Regions from separate parts of the Homo sapiens genome. Here region 2 is reported to be linked to region 1. Evidence: microRNA targets listed by miRTarBase, many of them from high-throughput screens and not tested one by one. Region 1 holds a microRNA gene; the other region holds the end of a gene's coding sequence.

The links. The annotated mature microRNA hsa-miR-218-2-3p reads CAUGGUUCUGUCAAGCACCGCG and lies in region 1 at 1,547-1,568, opposite strand. An mRNA with a match to its seed (bases 2 to 7 or 8) in the 3' UTR can be bound and repressed. Matches are read on the target gene's strand: a 7mer-m8 pairs with bases 2 to 8, a 7mer-A1 pairs with bases 2 to 7 and ends in A, and an 8mer does both.
Region 2: the mRNA of TMEM263 is a reported target of hsa-miR-218-2-3p. Seed matches in the 3' UTR shown: 7mer-A1 at 773-779.

The regions. Positions count from the first base shown.
Region 1 is chr5:168,766,622-168,769,927 of GRCh38, forward strand. It overlaps MIR218-2 (microRNA 218-2), which reads right to left and starts at 1,634; the gene lies at 1,525-1,634. The region is part of intron 14 of SLIT3 (slit guidance ligand 3); the gene reads right to left.
Region 2 is chr12:106,971,063-106,974,368 of GRCh38, forward strand. TMEM263 (transmembrane protein 263) reads left to right here. Exons shown (of 4, transcript NM_152261.4): 4 at 43-2,973. The coding sequence ends at 329. Among named protein-coding and RNA genes, the nearest start is that of MTERF2, 14 kb to the right of the region's middle.

The DNA.
Region 1 (3,306 bases):
GCCTGTGGCTGCGGGGCCAGTAAAGCACTGATGGAAGGGCACCATTATGGACCCACTCCCAGAGGCCTGGTCCCTGCCATGTTAGGGGCAGTGCCGAGGGCCTCAGAATGCCCCTCTCTGTAAGGTGGGAAAGGGAACTTCTCCAGGCTCGAGGATTTGCTCTGTGTTAAATGGGATCTTTGTATGTCCATGCTGGAGAGGAACAGCCATTTGAATAATGCTTTCTCTCTTACTCAAGTTCTTTCTACTAACAGATGAAAGTCTGAAAGGGAGAGTTTAAGCAAATTTCAAGTCCCTATCAAATCACAGTTTTTAAATGTTCTAATTCAAGGCAATGGGGTTGTCCACAGCTGGGAAGGTGGGTATTACAGCAGTACAGTGCAGCCATTCTGGAATCAGATGACCCTGGGTAAGTTAGCTAACCTCTCTGAGCCTCAATATCCTCATCTGTAAAGTGGGACTTTAGATTTTGTGAACATTAAACAAGGTAATGATGTGAAAACAGTTCACTGCCTGGCCTATAGCAAGCACTCAATGTATGTTAAAAAACTACTAAGCAATGGTTGGGCTCCTGGTTCTGAGGGGTAACCTCAGATAGACGAGGTAATAAGAGTCACACCTCATGATGGGGGCCCAGGGCTCAGCTTCTAGTTCTGAGCTAGGCTAAAGTTCCCACCTTAGCTCTCTCTTGCAGAATAGGACAAAGACTCCAGGACAGGAATGAACAACACAGTCTTCTGGTTACACTGGGTCTAGGATTTATCAAGGAACAAGCAAAATAAGAGGTACCAAGATCCCTCTCTTTATTATCAGAGATAGCAGGTTTCCACGTCCACACACACTCCCCTCCCCTGAAACAGAATTAGCACCAGGTGAGGAGCCCAGCACCTCCACGTTAACTGTGCTTTGCAGGTCAAGGAAACAGACTGGACTTTAGGTTTCATGGGGTTCAGGGACTGTGTTTTCATAAAGTATGGGAATGAGGTTCAGAAGGAACCTTGGGTTAAACCCAAAGTCTCAGACTCACATGAGTTTCACCCATTCTCATGCTGACGTTCATTTCAAATAAAGTGAATACCAATAAAGGTGGTGGTGGGAGGGGTCGGGGGTCACAAGCAGTAGGAATTCCCCTTTGGGTTAGCTGCCACTTGGAAAAATGACCTTGGGTTGGGACTCTCCCATGAAACCATGGGGCGTATGCCTTGGGTATACTTGTTCCCTTCCAGTGGAAGAAGAGACACAGTAGTTTCTGAGCTTGAACCTAGTTATTACTCCTTGTCTGACATCCAGACTAGATTTGGGGGAGGGTGACTCCATTTTGGGAAAGAGATGTGGATACAGATCTCTTTCCCCAGGGTGCTTCTCCAGACCCATTTCCCTCTGTATCTGCATCCTTTGAGACTCCTACCCTCCTGCCTTTGGTGAGTTGAGACTGGGAGAGGTGGGTCTGGCAGGTGGTGGGCTGCGGTGCTCCAGAGCAGAGGAGAGGTGTCCAGCGGTGGTGGCGGCGGTGGCGGGCCATGCTGCAGGAGAGCACGGTGCTTTCCGCGGTGCTTGACAGAACCATGTTCCGTTTCCATCGTTCCACCACATGGTTAGATCAAGCACAAAGGAAAGCCCCGCAGCGACTGGTCAGAGTCAAGGTCAGGAAGCAGCGTCAGAGAGAGGACAGGAGCGCTCAGAGGAAGCAGCGTGGAGAAGCGGAAGCCGGAGCAGGCCCCCACTGAGCGTGATTAGTATCAGGAGTGGGGTTCCACTGGAACACTTCCGAAGATTGCAGCCCTGCTGCCCTTGTGCCCCACCCCAGGGAGACACAGTAGGAAGGGAGAAGAACGGGAGGGAAATCACTGGATGCCCATACTCGGGAGCTTCAGGACAGCATGGTTCCTTCCCAAGGAAAGAAAGAACACTCAGACATCTGTGATCCTATCACATGCCTGAATTGAGCCTCTAAACTCCATTCAGTCACACCAGTTGGTCTGACAAGACATTAAACTTAGAAAAGCATCTTCTGCATGCTTTGCAACATAGGCCCAATCCCCCCAACAGCTGAGTGGTTCCATCACAGTCATTCCTCTAGCCCCTTAAGTCAAGAGACAATCCACAGTTCCCAGTGGTCTAGCAAACCTTCAATGCTGTTCTTTAGGAAAAAGCCCCCTTTGACATTCCACAATTCAGGAGTCTCCTTTATATCCTTTGAGGTCAGCAGGAATGCTCTGGCTGATAGACACTCATCCCAGATCATTTGAGGTTTAATAGAGGAGCAGTGGGGTGTCAAAAGAAAATATATCTCTCTAGCCAGAGAGAAAGACAGGAAAACAAATGGGGCCGTAGGGTTTGGACTGAGGAACCTGCAATCATAGTTGTTGTTTGAGAACACTGACTTTCACAGAGATGGTGGCCAGTGCGCCTCCTGATGAAGGGCCTCTTTGAGACTAAGAGAAGGAAGGAAAGGGAAGCCAAGTGATGAGTCTGAGGGGAAGACACTGAATTCTGGGGTCCTTCTTGATTTCTTGTTCTCTTCCTTAGCTGGAAATTATGGGAGCGAACAGGATGAACCAATAACCACTGTCAGGATGCCAAAGGCCCAGGTGAGGGTACCCAGTTTTTATATTCCTCTCTGTGATAGATCAGGGTCAGTTTCCATGAACCTGCTGACTTGGGACTTCCTCCCACTTGGCATTAGGCTGGAGATGTGCATCTTGAAGAAACTGGAGCTAAGGCTAAGTGACTGAGACCCTCCCTGCCTGACCTCTGACATGAGAACCAGTATCAACATTCTTCCACTATGTGTTTTTGGGACTGGGCATATCCTCTAGATGGTCTCAGCATCTCAACGGTGCATAGGTTGTCTGCCATGTTGGACCAGTTAGGAAGAGCCAGCCCACAGCTCTGGGTCTGTCTGGCCTCTCCTCCTTCCTAAGGTCTCTCATCACACGCACTAGAGTCAGCCACTAGAATCTGGACTCCACTCTGCTTTGACACCTATGCAGGGCTCTGTGAACACTGTGGTTCTGGGACTTCAAATGTGAGTTTGATTAGGACCCTGGTACAAGAGCAGGGGAAATCCATCCTGTTCGTGCAAACCGCCACCCTCACCAAGCCTTAAAATCTAATTTTCTTTCTCTTTGGTTTCTTCCTACAAAAAGAAATGGAGGGATTTGTAGGTAAATTATCAAGAGTCTTCACAGTATGTCAGAAGTCCTGGGTTTCAGATCTTGCCCTAAAAATAATACTCAATACCTTAGATAAGATTTTTCTGCTGTGTGGACCTCAATTTATCCATCTCTAGAATAAACTGGATGA
Region 2 (3,306 bases), not on the chromosome of region 1:
GTGACTTATATTTGATTGTCTCATGATATTTTCTCTCATTAGGTTCAATGAAAGATCACCCACAGCAGCAGCCAGGCATGTTGTCCCGTGTGACTGGGGGTATCTTCAGTGTTACAAAGGGAGCTGTTGGTGCCACCATTGGTGGTGTGGCTTGGATTGGTGGAAAGAGTCTGGAAGTGACCAAAACAGCTGTTACAACTGTGCCTTCCATGGGAATAGGGCTGGTGAAAGGGGGTGTCTCTGCTGTGGCTGGAGGTGTTACAGCTGTTGGGTCTGCTGTTGTAAACAAAGTGCCCTTAACAGGAAAGAAGAAAGACAAATCTGACTGAAATATAGAGATACACTTGCGCTCCACAGCACTGTAATGCCAGTGGCATTGAATTGCTAAATTATGGACTACAACCAAGTCAACTGTTTTGGACGTTTATCTTCTAAACTGCTGTGTTGAAAGTATTGATGACTGGCTTTCATCTAAAAAGAAGAGACCAATACGAGCACAGTATATGAAGGTTTCTCATACTTAAGTTCCAGGTTTTTATCTGGTAAAATGTTACACTTACTCGGTTGTAACTGAAGATATGGTATGTTTGAATATTTACTATAAGTCTTTCAGTTTGACTAAAAATGTGAAAGTTGAATTTAGTAGATGATCTTCACAGTTCCATATGTATAATGTGCCAGGTAACTCACCTGCCCCTTAAGAAGGGAACCTTGAATTACATAAGCCGTACCTTTGATGTGCCTAATAGTTTCAGATGTCTTAGTTTTTTATAACCATAGTTGATTAGGCCAAGAGGCATTCATTTCTTATTTAAGCTGGCAAAATTAGCAGGAATTAGAGAAGTTTAAAAAGATAAATGGTTTTATGATAATGTTAACCATCTTTTGTTAGTAAATATGCGTTCTATTATTTTAATCATTGATGCCTTACAAAAGAAAACATCTTTTCTAATACCCTGAATATGTGCTGTTCTTAGAATCATCTATGGATTCTTTTAAAGGTTGTTTGTGAAATTAGTTTTCCCTTTTTAGAATCTCAGGAGTAGTGGGGTAAAGACATTTCCTGCTGTCAGTGGATAAGACAGAGCTTGTTAACTGTTTTGGCAGTAGTTAAAATCAAATTGTACACTTCTCAGCCTGGGTTCATGCTTCATCATTAATACACCTCACAGTGCCTAAGGAACATTTACTTACTGGTCAGAAGGTATTTTGGAAGAGTTTCATATTAAGGAGGAACAAATAATAATTTTAAGTTCTTAAAAATTACCTAAAACACCCCAAATATAAAAAGAAGCCTTCACACCTATTCTGTCTTTAGGATGTCTTAAATTATTAGCAGTACTCCTTTTTTAAAAACACTGTAAAAGTAACCACAAATATGTGAGGACTTACTATTTTAAATGGAATGGAATGAGCTCCATAGATTAGTTTTGAATATAAAGTATATAAAAGTGCATCAGTGGTTTATATAGGCTTTAAAAACATGTTATCTTACAGTCCTTTAAAGCAGCCATAGAGTTTGTATCATTTTTCAAGCCAATTTCAGTCAGGGATTTGAATTGTTTGATTATGGATGATAAATGTGTCATATCTTATTAATATGTCTCATGTCTCGTTCCTTCTTAATATGATTTAGCTGGAATTCATTTTCTTTTCGTTTCATGTTTAATTTCATAAAACGTTTAACAATTGGCATATATACTTGGCATTCCTGTCCACCAAGGATTGTAATCCAAGCCTGGGAAAATCTTAAATTTCTTTTTACTTAAATCTGGAAATTTGTCTCCATTCTGCCACCTTTTTTTTTTTTTTTTTTTATAGTGGAGGGGAGGAAAGGGGGGTGATACCTTGCAGTAAGTAAGTCGAAATAGCATGCCTGAAAATTTGAAACAGACCATTCTAACACCCAAGGCTTGTTTATAAAATACTTGAGAATTACATTAATGTGGAATCAACAGATGCAGAAGAATATAACATAACTTTTAAAAGCTTTCATAAATACCAGCAGCAATTGTAAGCAAATCTACAAAGGTTCTTGAACCTTTCTATTATATACAAAACTGAAAAGTCATTAAGGAGTTCAACTAATCAGGAATTAAATGGTCATTTATTTCATGCAGTATGATTTAAGGTATTTCTTGAGATTCTGGTCAAATGTCATAATCAGCAAACGGGATTAAAAAAAAAACTCCAAAATCACTAAATAATTATCTAAATAATGGTATTGGAGAACTTGTTTCCTGCTATTTGGAAGAGATTGTTGCTTCATTGCTAGTTTGTATTTCTAACTTCTACAGTTATAGACTCCACTGTGCTTTGTGTCTGAATTTCTCAGTATAGACATTTTGTTTACTGTATGCTTGCATATTTATTTTCAACTTTGTTTGTCTTTAAAATTGCTTGAGGAAAAATGGTTGTAATTAATTTCTGCTACAGAAAAGCCACCTGGTACGTTTTGTCTCATCAGGATTGTTTTAAATTCTAAACTATAAGTTTGTTCAGAGGGGCTTTTGCAATGATAGCAGAAAACTGTACAAATGTACAGTTAGTTATAGAGGTTCTTGTTGAAATGAACTTACCATCTGATGATATGTATGTACAGCTGTGTACTTGAGTCTTTTTTAGTTTACTTAGAAAGACTAGCAGTTTGACCTGTTAAACAGGACTAGTTCAAGTCAAGAAACTAAGGTTGTTGTATACACCTGGAGGCATCTGTTATTCAGCTTATCCTTTGAGTGGGTATTTGGCACAATGAGGATAAACTTATGTGACCCACTTGAATGGCTGATCTAATAATGTTGACATTATGCATTCTGTACTTAGTGAAATGTCAGATGAAAATAACTGATGAATAATTTTTTTGTATTAAAGGGATGGGAAAAGAACACATGAATTTGTTAATAAAGCACTATGATCTGCAAACGATGGAATGTTTCATAAAGATCTAAAGAAATAAAGGAAACTTTAAAACAGGGTGATCTTACCATTTTTAGTTACTTTGCAGTTCAGAAAGTGCTGTAGCCAGTTTAAAATTTTTTTTATAGTAATGTACAAACATATCTTTGGATATGTATTTTGATGCTGACACAACCATGAAATACAAATATATTTTAAGCAACTCTAATAATAAAGATTAAGAGTGTAGATTTCTAGGTTTTACCCCAACTTGCCAAATCTCTGCAAGGTGGGGCCCAGGACTGCATTTTAACAACCTCTCTGGGTAATTCTTGAGTACAACAAGAGTACTTTCAAACAAAGTTTGAAAACTGATGGATTATAAAGCAGGGAGCACTTCTGTCTGTTCCA